Regions from separate parts of the Homo sapiens genome. Here region 1 is linked to region 2. Evidence: fine-mapped expression QTL. A gene starts in region 2. The other region holds a variant in brackets. All regions are shown on one strand. Distances are from middle to middle.

Region 1 (5,522 bases), 35 kb before region 2:
ATCGGATAATGTTATTGGATAATAAAGGAATAGGAACAATATTTGAAGCAATAATGACTGAGAATTTCCCCCAAATTAATGTCAGACACCAAACCACAGATCCAGGAAGCTCAAAATCAAGCAAGATAAATGCCAAAAACATTGCAACTATACATACGATATTAGATCATAAATATTGTGCTTCTGGCAGGGGGAGGGGAAAAAGAAACCATTTTGAAATACACCAGAGCGTTTTATTTTTCCTAACAAGGCCTGCCTCAGGAGAAACTATTTTACCAGAGCCCTACTTGCTGGGGCTTTATCACGGCCTAACCTACCTGGGGGAAGTGAAAGACCCAACTCCAGCCTCCTCTAGCTATCTTGTCTCACCTAAGAGGAAAAACACCTGAAAAGCACTTGTGAAGTTCACAGTGCAGGGGCACAGGCTCAACAAAAGACTGAGACCAGGCTGGGTGCAGTGGCTCACAACTGTAATCCTAGCACTTTGGGAGGCTGAGGCGGGCGGATCACCAGAGGTCAGGAGTTTGAGACCAGCCTGGCCAACGTGGTGAAACCCCGTCTCTACTAAAAATACAAAAATTAGACAGGCATGGTGGTGCATGCCTACAATCCCAGCCACTTGGGAGGCTGAGGCAGGAGAATTGCTTGAACCAGGGAGGCAGAGGTTGCAGTGAGCTGAGATTGCGCCACTGTACTCCAGCCTGGGCGACAGAGCAAGACTCTGTCTCAAAAAAAAAAAAGAAAGACAACAACAATAAAAACTGAGACCTAATCGTAGGACTATAGAACACTTCCTCCCCCTCCGCCCAGACACCTTACCACTGCATTACTAAAATCCTATTTACTTTACTTTTTTTTTTTAAAACTCAGTACACCATGTTCACCTTTAACAAAAGCTTAAAAGGCATACTAAAAGGCAAAAAATGCTGTTTGAAGAGACTGAATGAGCATCAGAACCAGACTCAGATATGACAGGAATGTTGGAATTATCTGACTAGGAATTTAAAAAACTATAATTGCTCTCTCCTCCTGCCACCCAAGATGCTGAAAAGAAGGCCAAGGGCAAAAAGGTGGCTCTGGCCTCTGCTGTCGTAAAGAAGCAGCAGGCCAAGAAAGTGGTGAATCCCTGTTTGAGAAAAAGCCTAAGAATTCTGGCATCGGACAGGACATCCGGCCTGAAAGCGAGCTCACTCGTTTTGTGAAATGGCCCCACTATATGAGGGCAGAGAGCCATTCTCTATAAGCGGCTGAAAGTGCCTCTTGCGATTAACCAGTTTACCCAGGACCTGGAAGGCCAAACAGCTACTCAGCTGTTTAAGCTGGCCCAGAGACAAAGCAAGAGAAGCAGCAGAGGCTGTTGGCCCTGGCTGAGAAGAAAGCTCTGGGCAAAGGGGGCATCCCCACTAAGAGACCACCGGTCCTTCGAGCAGGAGTTAACACCGTCACCACCTTGGTGGAGAACAAGAAGGCTCAGCCCGTGGTGACTGCACAGGATGTCGAGCCCATCAAGCTGGTTGTCTTCCTGCCTGCCCTGTGCCATAAAATGGAGGTCCCTTACTGCGTTATCAAAAGGAAGGCAAGGCTGGGATGTCTAGTCCACAGGAAGACCTGCACCAATGCTGCTTTCACACAGGTTAACTCGGAAAACAAAGGGGCTTTGGCTAAGCTGGTGGAAGCTATCAGGACCAATTACAATGACAGATCTGATGAGATCTGCCGTCACTGGGGAGGCAAGGCCCTGGGTCCCAAGTCTGTGGCTCACATTGCCCATATGGAAAAGGCAAAGGCTAAAGAACTTGCCACCAAAGTGAGTTAAAGGTACACTGTTGAGTTTTCTGTATATAAAAATAATTAAAATAATACAAATTCTCCCAAAAAAACTATAATCGATAAGCTAAGGGTTTTAATGATAAAAGTAGACAACATGGAATAGACAAATAACATAAACAGAGAGATGAGTATTCTAAAAAAATGCTAGAGATATGAAAAGACTGTTACAGAAATGAAGAATGCCTTTGATGGGCTCATTAGAGACTGGATATGGCTAAGGAAAGAATCTCTGAGCTAGAGGATATGGCAATAGGAACTTGTAAAACTGAAAAGCAGAGAGAAAAAAGACTGAAAAATCAGAACACAATATTCAAAACTGTGGGACAACTACAGAAAGTATAGCATATACATAAATGGGAATACCAGAAGGATAAGAAAGGAACAGAAGCAATATTTGAAGCAATAAAGACTGAGAATTTCCCCAAATTAATGTCAGACACCAAAGCACAGATCCAGGAAGCTCAGAGAACATCAAGCAGGATAAATGCCAAAAAAAAAAAAAAAAAAAAAATTACAACTAAACATATTATATTCAAATTTCAGATGAAGACAAAGAAAAATTTGAAAAGAGCCAGAGAAACAATAATCTCCCTTTTGAGGAAGAAAGATAAGGATTACATATGACCTCTCCACAGTAACCATGCAAACAAGAAGAGAATGGAGTAAAATATTTAAAAGTACTAAGAGGAGGAAAAAAAATCCACCAACCGGCTGGGCGTGGTGGCTCATGCCTATAATCCCAGCACTTTGGGAGGCTGAGGCCGGTGGATCACCTGATGTCAGGAGTTCGAGACCAGCCTGGCCAACATGGTGAAACCCTGTCTCTACTAAAAATAAAAAACTTAGCTGGGCATGGTGGCGCATGCCTGTAATCCCAGCTACTCGGGAGGCTGAGGCAGGAGAATCACTTGAACCTGGGAGGCAGAGGTTGCAGTGAGAGATCATGCCACTGCTCTCCAGCCTGGCCCACAGAGCAAGACTTTGTCTCAAAAAAAAGAAAGAAAGAAAAGAAAAGAAAAGAAACCAACTTACATAATGATAAAAGGGTCAGTATTCCAAGAAGACATAATAATCCTTAATATGTATGCACCTAACTATAGGACATCAAAATACATAAAGTGAAAACTGATAGAATTGCAAGGAGAAATAGATGAACCCACTATTATAGTTGGAGATTTTAACACCCCTGTATCAGAAATGGACAAATACAGCAGACAGAAAATCAGTAAGTACATAGTTGAACTTAACAGCACCATCCATCAAC[A/T]GGATATAGTTGGTATCTGTAGATTACTTCATCCAATAACAGGAGAAGATAGATTCTTCTCAAGATTCCATGGAACATTCACCAAGGCAGACCCATTTAATTTTTAACAAATTAAAAAGAATAAAAATCATACAATATCTCCTCTCAGACCACAATGAAATTAAACTTAGAAATCAATAACAGAAAGATATCTGGAAAATCCCCAAATACTTGGAGATTAAACACTTCGAAATAACACATAAGTCAAAAAAGAAATCTCAAGAAAAATTAAAAAATATTTTGAACTAAATGAAAGGAAAATACAACTTATCAAAATTTGTGGGATGCAGTGAAAGCAGTGCTTAGAAGGAAACTTATAGCATTAAATAAATATATTAGAAAAGAAGAAAAATCTACAATCAATCATCTAAGCTTCCACCTAAGTAAACTAGAAAAGGAAGAGCAAATTAAATTCGAAGTAAACAGAAGAAAAGAAATAATAAACATTTGAGCAGCAATCAATGAAACTGAAAACAGGAAGTCAATAGAGAAAGTCAATAAAATCAGTTTTTACAAAAAAGCTAGTTTTTTGTAAAGGTCAACAAAAGTAATAAGCCTCTAGCCAAGCTAAGAAAAATAGAGAGAGAACAAAAATGACTAATATCAGAAATGAAAAAGAGTACATGACTGCAGATCCCATAGATATTATTAATACATGGATGATAAAGGAATATTATGAACAGTTCTATATCCAGAAATTTGATAACCTAGATAAAAATGGACCAATTTCTTGAAAGACACTATCTGCCAAAACTCATGCAAGAAGAAATAGATGATCTGAATAGACTTGTGTCTACTACATAAATTGAATCAATAGTTAATAACCTTCCAAAACAGAAAGCCCAGATGGGTTCACTGGTAACTTTGCCAAACATTTAAGGAAGAAATTACATTAATTATTTACAGTCTCTTCTAGAAATAGAAGCAGAAGTAGTACTTCTTTACTCATTCTGTGAGGCCATAATTATCTTACTACCAAAATCAGACAAAGGCATTACAAGAAAACTACAGATATATCTCTCATGAACATAGATACAAAAATCCTCAACAAAATATTAACAAATTGACAATACCAGGTGGCAAGGTGGTTTGGATCCAGGCTATGAGGTGCTGGGAGCCTCAGTAGAACTTTCTGCCTCTGTTTCTTTAATGCAAGAGGAACCGATACAGAAGGGTGGAAAATGGCAGAGCTGCAGATGTTACTAGAGGAGATCCTGTCTCACAAGAGGGCACTGATAGAGAGTTACCAGAACCTGAACCAGGTGGCGAACTACTGTGAAGACAAGAGAAAAGCTTTAGAAGAGACCAAAGCCTACATAACCGGACCTCCAGTTAGTGTCACTTATCAAAAAACTACAGTGTCTAACAATGTACTCCAGTTGGTGAACATCCAAGCCTTTCAACTTTGAAGAATGGAGTCTTTCATCAATCATATCTCACAGATCATGGATATTAATAAAGAGAAAGTAGCTCGAAGAGATATTGGTATTTGGACAACAAATAAGACTACATCAAGAATTCACAAAATAATAGCGCCTGCAAATATGGAGCGTCTTATAAGGTATGTTTGGATACCTATTGCCTACACAGTTCTGAATGATGTGAACCATGGTGCCAAGCATGTAAATAACCAGCCTGCAAGAATTGGCACACTGCCAGCCAGGCGCAGTGGCTCACACCTGTAATCCCAGCACTTTGGGAGGCCAAGGTGGGTGGATCACCTGAGGTCAGGAGTTCACGACCAGCCTAGCCAATGTGGTGAAACCCTGTCTCTACTAAAAACACAAAAAATTAGCCAGGTGTGGTGGCGGGTGCCTGTAATCCCAGCTACTCGGGAGGCTGAGGCAGGAGAACTGCTTGAACCCGGGAGGCGAAGGTTACAGTGAGCTGAGATCGTGCTACTGCACTCCAGCCTGGGTGACAGAACAAAACACTGTCTCAAAAAAAAAAAAAAAAAAAAAAAGAATTGGCACACTGCCAAGAACAAGAGCAAATCCTTCTTTCCAAAACCACCAAGTCCTCTCGTATGAGGCCAGGGATTACTGGGACAGAATACTCCTTATAAAACCCTGGAACCCATTAAACCCCAACTGTTCCTAATGACTATATGATGCATCCTGCTAGGTTTGGAAGTCATCATAGTCCAGGCAGGTCAGCTTCATTAAATCAGAAACCAAGGCAGACAATGAAAGTAGTGGAGGAAGGGAAGTCAAGAAAACAGAGGAAGCAGTAGTGTTAGTATTCACATAGCTGTACCTATACCTTCACCCCCTATTATTGGATAGTTTAACTCCTCCACCACCGACACCACCAGATAATGTTCTCATGTTTGATGACTTTCCACCTCCACCATCACCCACTCCAGTGGATTATGAAGACGAGGAGGCTG
Region 2 (5,000 bases):
TCAAGCGATCCTCCTGCTCAGCCTCCCCAGTAGCTGGGATTATAGGCACCTGCCACCATGCCCAGCTAAGTTTTGTATTTTTAGTAGAGCTGGGGTTTCACCATGTTGGCCATGGTGGTCTCGAACTCCCGACCTCAGGTGATCCACCCAGCTCGGCCTCCCAAAGTGCTGGGATTACAGGTGTCAGCCACTGCGCCCGGCCTCTAGTAAATCTTTTTGTTTTGATGTGAATAAATAGAAAGCTTATAAAAAATAAAGCATTCAACCACTTCCCTTTCTATAGTCAAAGTTCAAACGCCAGAAAAGCCGAAATAGGTGATACAAAGTCATCCTTTAGTATAAGCAGTAGTATGTTTTGAGAAAATCCTAAACTCCACTCATTGTCTTACTTACAAGTGCACCGAAATATTATTGCCTGTAAATGACATTGCGGTTTTACTGGTCAGGAAAATGAATGATATAAATTTTTAATTCTAACCTAAAACCTGCGTTAGTACTAACCTGAGGAAATAACATGGTTGTTTGTAAGCTAATCAAGAGCCCTTAAACTCCATTACATAAATGATACACTTACCCTTTGTATTAAGGGACTAACGGCTTCGCTTTTCAACAAAGCTGGATCTTCTGGCACACGCTCAGAAGATAGCCAGTACTTCAGAGACAGATTGCTTTGAGGGCACTGGAACCGCTGAGGGGCAGAGTAATCCTAATGAGAAAGAAAAAAGAGGACGCCTCTGGAGTTAAAATAAGACAATGCATCTGTGGAGAACACGGTGACTGAAGACTGGCAGAATTCTCAATATCTCAGGCCACTATACACTGCGCAGTTTTCATTTGTATTTTGGAGGTGCTCTAGAAAACTTAGAAATGATTAGAATAAAAAGTATGGATACTTTTAACCAGCCCATGTACAGGAAATTCTGTTGGTGTAGAAACGGTTCTGCTGTTCATTCCTTAACTGCTTCTGTTCCCACTTTGTCAGATGTAGGGCGAGGTGGTGGTGGTGAGTCCTAATTTTTTCTATCTCTATCCACAGTCTGGAATCGTTAGGATTATTTTAAGCCTTCATAACATTTGCGGACAGCTTGGAGTGTTTTGTACATGTAGTGGGGCAGTGCCTGGCCTCCTGTGAGAGATTGATCATCGGTAAACAATCCACACGAAACTCACTTGCCAGTGGACGGGGAGGATCGCTGCCATCCTTTCAGCAAAGAGCAAACGAATAAGGAGAGATCCGGGCCCATCCCTCCTCGCGCAGCAGTTTCTAGATTTTTACCCCGGCTTCATAAATGGCTACCAGCTGGCAGTCACAACACTTTCATAATGTTTGCACACAACTCATTTGGGTCGCTTTCTTTTCTTTCCTTTTTTTTTTTTTTTTTTTGAGAGAAACGGAGAGTCTTACTCTCTCGCCCAGGCTGGAGTGCAGTGGCGAGATCTCGGCTCACTGCAACCTCCGCCTCCTAGATTCCTGCGATTCTCCTGTCTCAGCTTCCCAAGTAGCTGGGGCTACAGGCGTGCGCCACTATGCCCAGCTAATTTTTTGTACTTTTTTTGGCAGAGACGGGTTTTACTATATGTTGGCCAGGCTGGTCTCGAACTCCTGACCTCAGGTGATCCGCCTGCCTTGGCCTCCCAAAGTACTGGGGTTACAGGCGTGAACCACCGCGCCCGACCATTATTTGGGTCGCTTTCTAATTTCTTTCTCCGTTTGTAGCTAGCGTTGCCCGAAGGAGATTTCAGAGAGATCCCCTGGAGAAAGGGACGGGGGATGTCGTTTTCCAGTAATTTCTGGGGGAAATCTGGGATAGTCAGGGGGTAAATCTAGTGCCGTTTGCTGAAGTTAAAAGGCGTGGGGAGCCAGGTGGTGCCCTGGAGGGAGGGCCGCGCGAGACGAGACCAACCTTCGGGACAGGGGAGAGCGGGGCTACTGAACGCAGGGGATTCCGCTGAGCCTCCAGCCCCTGAGCGTCCACCTTCGGCCCAGCTGGGGGACGCGGTCTCGGGAAGAAAGCCCGGAATCCCGAGCCGGCCAGCCGCGAGCAGCGAGTACCGGAGCGCGTGGGCAGGCGCGCGGAGGCAGAGGCGGGCCGGCGGCTGTCCCTTTAAGGGGCCGGTCTCCCGGCGCCGCCGGCCCAGACGCCAGGACGTGCCGGGTCCGCCCCGCCCCGCCCCGAAGCCGCCCGTTTCCTGCCGAGCGGCGCGACGGCACCTGAGCGACTGCGGCGGCGGCGGCGGCGGCGGCGGCGCCTCGGAGCGGGCGGCCCGGGCTGTAGTGCCGGCGCCGCCGCGTCTTCCCGGTCTCCTTTCCCGGCCGCACAGGGTGAGGGAGAGCAGGCCGCACCGGGACGGGCGCCGGCGGCGGGGAGCGCGGGGGGAGGCGGCGCCGGCCGCGGGGTCCTGGGGCAGGCGGGAGGGCCGCGCCGGGCGGGGGGGCGCGGCCGCGGGGCCCGGACGCCGCCCGCTGGGTAGGCCTCGGGCATCCGGTTGCCGCCGCGGGGCTCTTGTTGGGGCCGGGACGCCGCAGGGGGCGGGCTCGGAGGGACCTCCTCGGCCTCGCGGGGCCGCTCTGGGCCCGACCCCGGCTCTGTCGCGGCACCCGGGGCGCGGCCGAGGGACACCCCCCACCCTCCCCAAGGACGACTCTCCCGAAGGCGAGGTCGACCCGAGCGGGCCCTGGGGTGACCGAGGCACCTATTTTTAGCCAAGCCTGAGGGCCCCCGGGAGGGAAGGCGGATTACCGCCTCCTCGGCCGGTGGACGGAGGCAGCGCGTCTCCGGCGGCGTCCCCGGGCCGGAGCTGGGCCACACTTACGCCATGCTGGAGTTCCAGTCCTCGCCGCTGCCTCCGGCGGTCTGGGCGCTCGCCCCCTTCCCCGGCGCCCCTCCCGCTGCCCTTTGCGAGTCCCCAGGTCAGGGCGGGAGGCGGTTGGGCACGGAAAGCAGCATGAGGGGGGACTTTGGAAAAATCCATGGACCACTCTCGACACCGGCGAAGTTATCCCTTCCTGTCCCCGAGGGGTGTGTCCTAGCGATTCGGCCTGACCCCTTCAGTTTCCAAAAGTGAGATTTTTGGCCTTGGGGACCTCGCCGGAAAACTACGCGGGAAGTCTAGAGAAGTCGTCTGGCTCTCAGCCATACGTCTGGTGTGGGATGTGCAGCCCCGCATGCTGGCGGTGAAGGCGCTGGGTGCACTAGATGTGGGCAGCCCCGGACGCGGGCAGCGGCGTCCCAGCCGGCCCCAGTTGCACCTTGACTAGGTTAGGTTGAAAGTAAGCTGTTCAGTGTTGGCCCTTCTTTCCTGTGGGAGGAAGGAGGAATCTAAATTCAGAACTGTGTTGGCAAACGGATTCCTTAGCCGCTATTTAAGTTAGTAGTGCTTAAAGAGCTACGGTTGAAGTTAACTGTTAAGGTGTGTGTGTGTGTGTGAGTGTGTGTGTGTGATGACTTTGTGGAAAGCCTTGAGTAAAGAGCTACGGTTGAAGTTAACTGTTAAGGTGTGTGTGTGTGTGATGACTTTGTGGAAAGCCTTGAGAAATGTAGACACTCATGGCCAGCCCAGCTAAAGATAAGCATCTTCGGTGAACTAAAGGTTCTGAATTGTATAGGAGTTGACTTAAAGTTAGAATTTTTGCTAAATTAGGTTGCATTTGTTTTCCTTAGCTTACCTAGCAGGCTAATGGCAACAGTGTCTCCAGTTTGGTCCGAAGCAATTGCTGGTGAGACTTGGGATAATGATCCCAAGCTGGTGAGACTTGGGATAATGATCCCAAGAATAACACTAAATTACTCTTGAGTATTTTGGGTAGACATGCCTTGCAGTAGACTTTCATATTTGATGTGCTGCCTGATAAAAAAGGCTCTTTTTTTTTTTCCTTTTTCCTTTTTTTTTAGTTTAAGGATCTAACCTGAAATAGCTGGGTCTGTTCATGAGTTTCCCTCCCACCCCAACATTGAGTTTCAAATGTCTCTTCTAATTTTGTAGCCTTCATCAGACATAACAATACCTTATCAAGTGAGCTTAGAGAATAAGGTGTTCTACTTGATTTACTTGAGGCTGATAATGAATTTGAAAATATAACAAGATCTATTGAAAAATTTTCTTAATACTTGAAAATTATAAAGAATATCAAGTATTTAACTCTTAATGATTCAGCGTCAGCATTATGAAGAGACATTTACGATTTTGTTTCCAATTTAGATCTTTCTGTATTCTTTTAATACCAGTAGTCTCTTCTGTTTGATGTTGTGTTTGTCCCTAAAAATGCCTCACTTCAGTCTCCCTTCTAGTTTATAGGCTTTAATCTGCTTTTGGTAGGGAGATCGTTTTAATAATTATATTTTTAATATCAGTCAATATGGCTTTTTAAAAGAGCCTAAGACGTGAAAACCTTTTTGAGACTTCTAAAGAACCCATATTAAGATTGTCACTGTTCTTAAGTTCTTAACTTGAATGTTAAGTTATGGTTAAAAGTTCTTAATCAGCCTGTCATGGTTAAGATGACACGTAGAATACTGAATCATAATTGTTTTTTTAAAAGTTGAATGTGTCTTATACATTTCCTATGTGTAAGTTAATTTCTTAACTTGAATGGAACATGTGTTTTTAATTGTATGCCTATAATTTTTATAGCAAATGAAGTTTTAACCTGAAAGATCTCCAATACTTTGTTAAAATATTAAATTGTTAATGAACTTAAGTGGTTCTAGGAAGGTTTTGGTTCTCTTGGGAATCTGACCTAATATGTAATAAGGAAATGAGAAAAATCGTGCTTTGCAAGATCGTTCATATATTTGAGAATACACCTTATGACCTGCTTGTTCTCTGTACTGTTTTTAGTGACTTTGAAGGTAAATCCAGAGTATACTTAGAGGATACAAGCAAGTAACTATTTCTCTAGAAGTGACATTGGTGATCACTCATGCTCAAAGAGAATTGCATTTCATTGCTTCCTCTTTCAGTTCCTGTGAACATGACTTTGTCCCAATCAAAAAATGTAA

Evidence for each region. PIP is the estimated chance that this variant, and not a neighbour inherited with it, causes the effect.
Region 1: its variant is the best candidate, but not a certain one, in a credible set for the expression of KTN1-AS1 in whole blood (TOPMed, PIP 0.65).

Annotation. Positions count from the first base shown.
Region 1 is chr14:55,542,360-55,547,881 of GRCh38, forward strand. It overlaps the pseudogene RPL7AP4 and the pseudogene ABI1P1. Among named protein-coding and RNA genes, the nearest start is that of KTN1-AS1, 35 kb to the right of the region's middle. The variant A/T (reference allele first, on the strand shown) is at 3,095.
Region 2 is chr14:55,578,032-55,583,031 of GRCh38, forward strand. KTN1-AS1 (KTN1 antisense RNA 1) reads right to left here and starts at 2,061. Exons shown (of 3, transcript NR_027123.1): 1 at 1,905-2,061; 2 at 575-706. KTN1 (kinectin 1) reads left to right here and starts at 2,176. Exons shown (of 44, transcript NM_001079521.2): 1 at 2,176-2,323. RefSeq lists enhancers at 1,401-1,520, 1,531-1,620 and silencers at 2,061-2,320, 2,381-3,020, 3,200-3,494.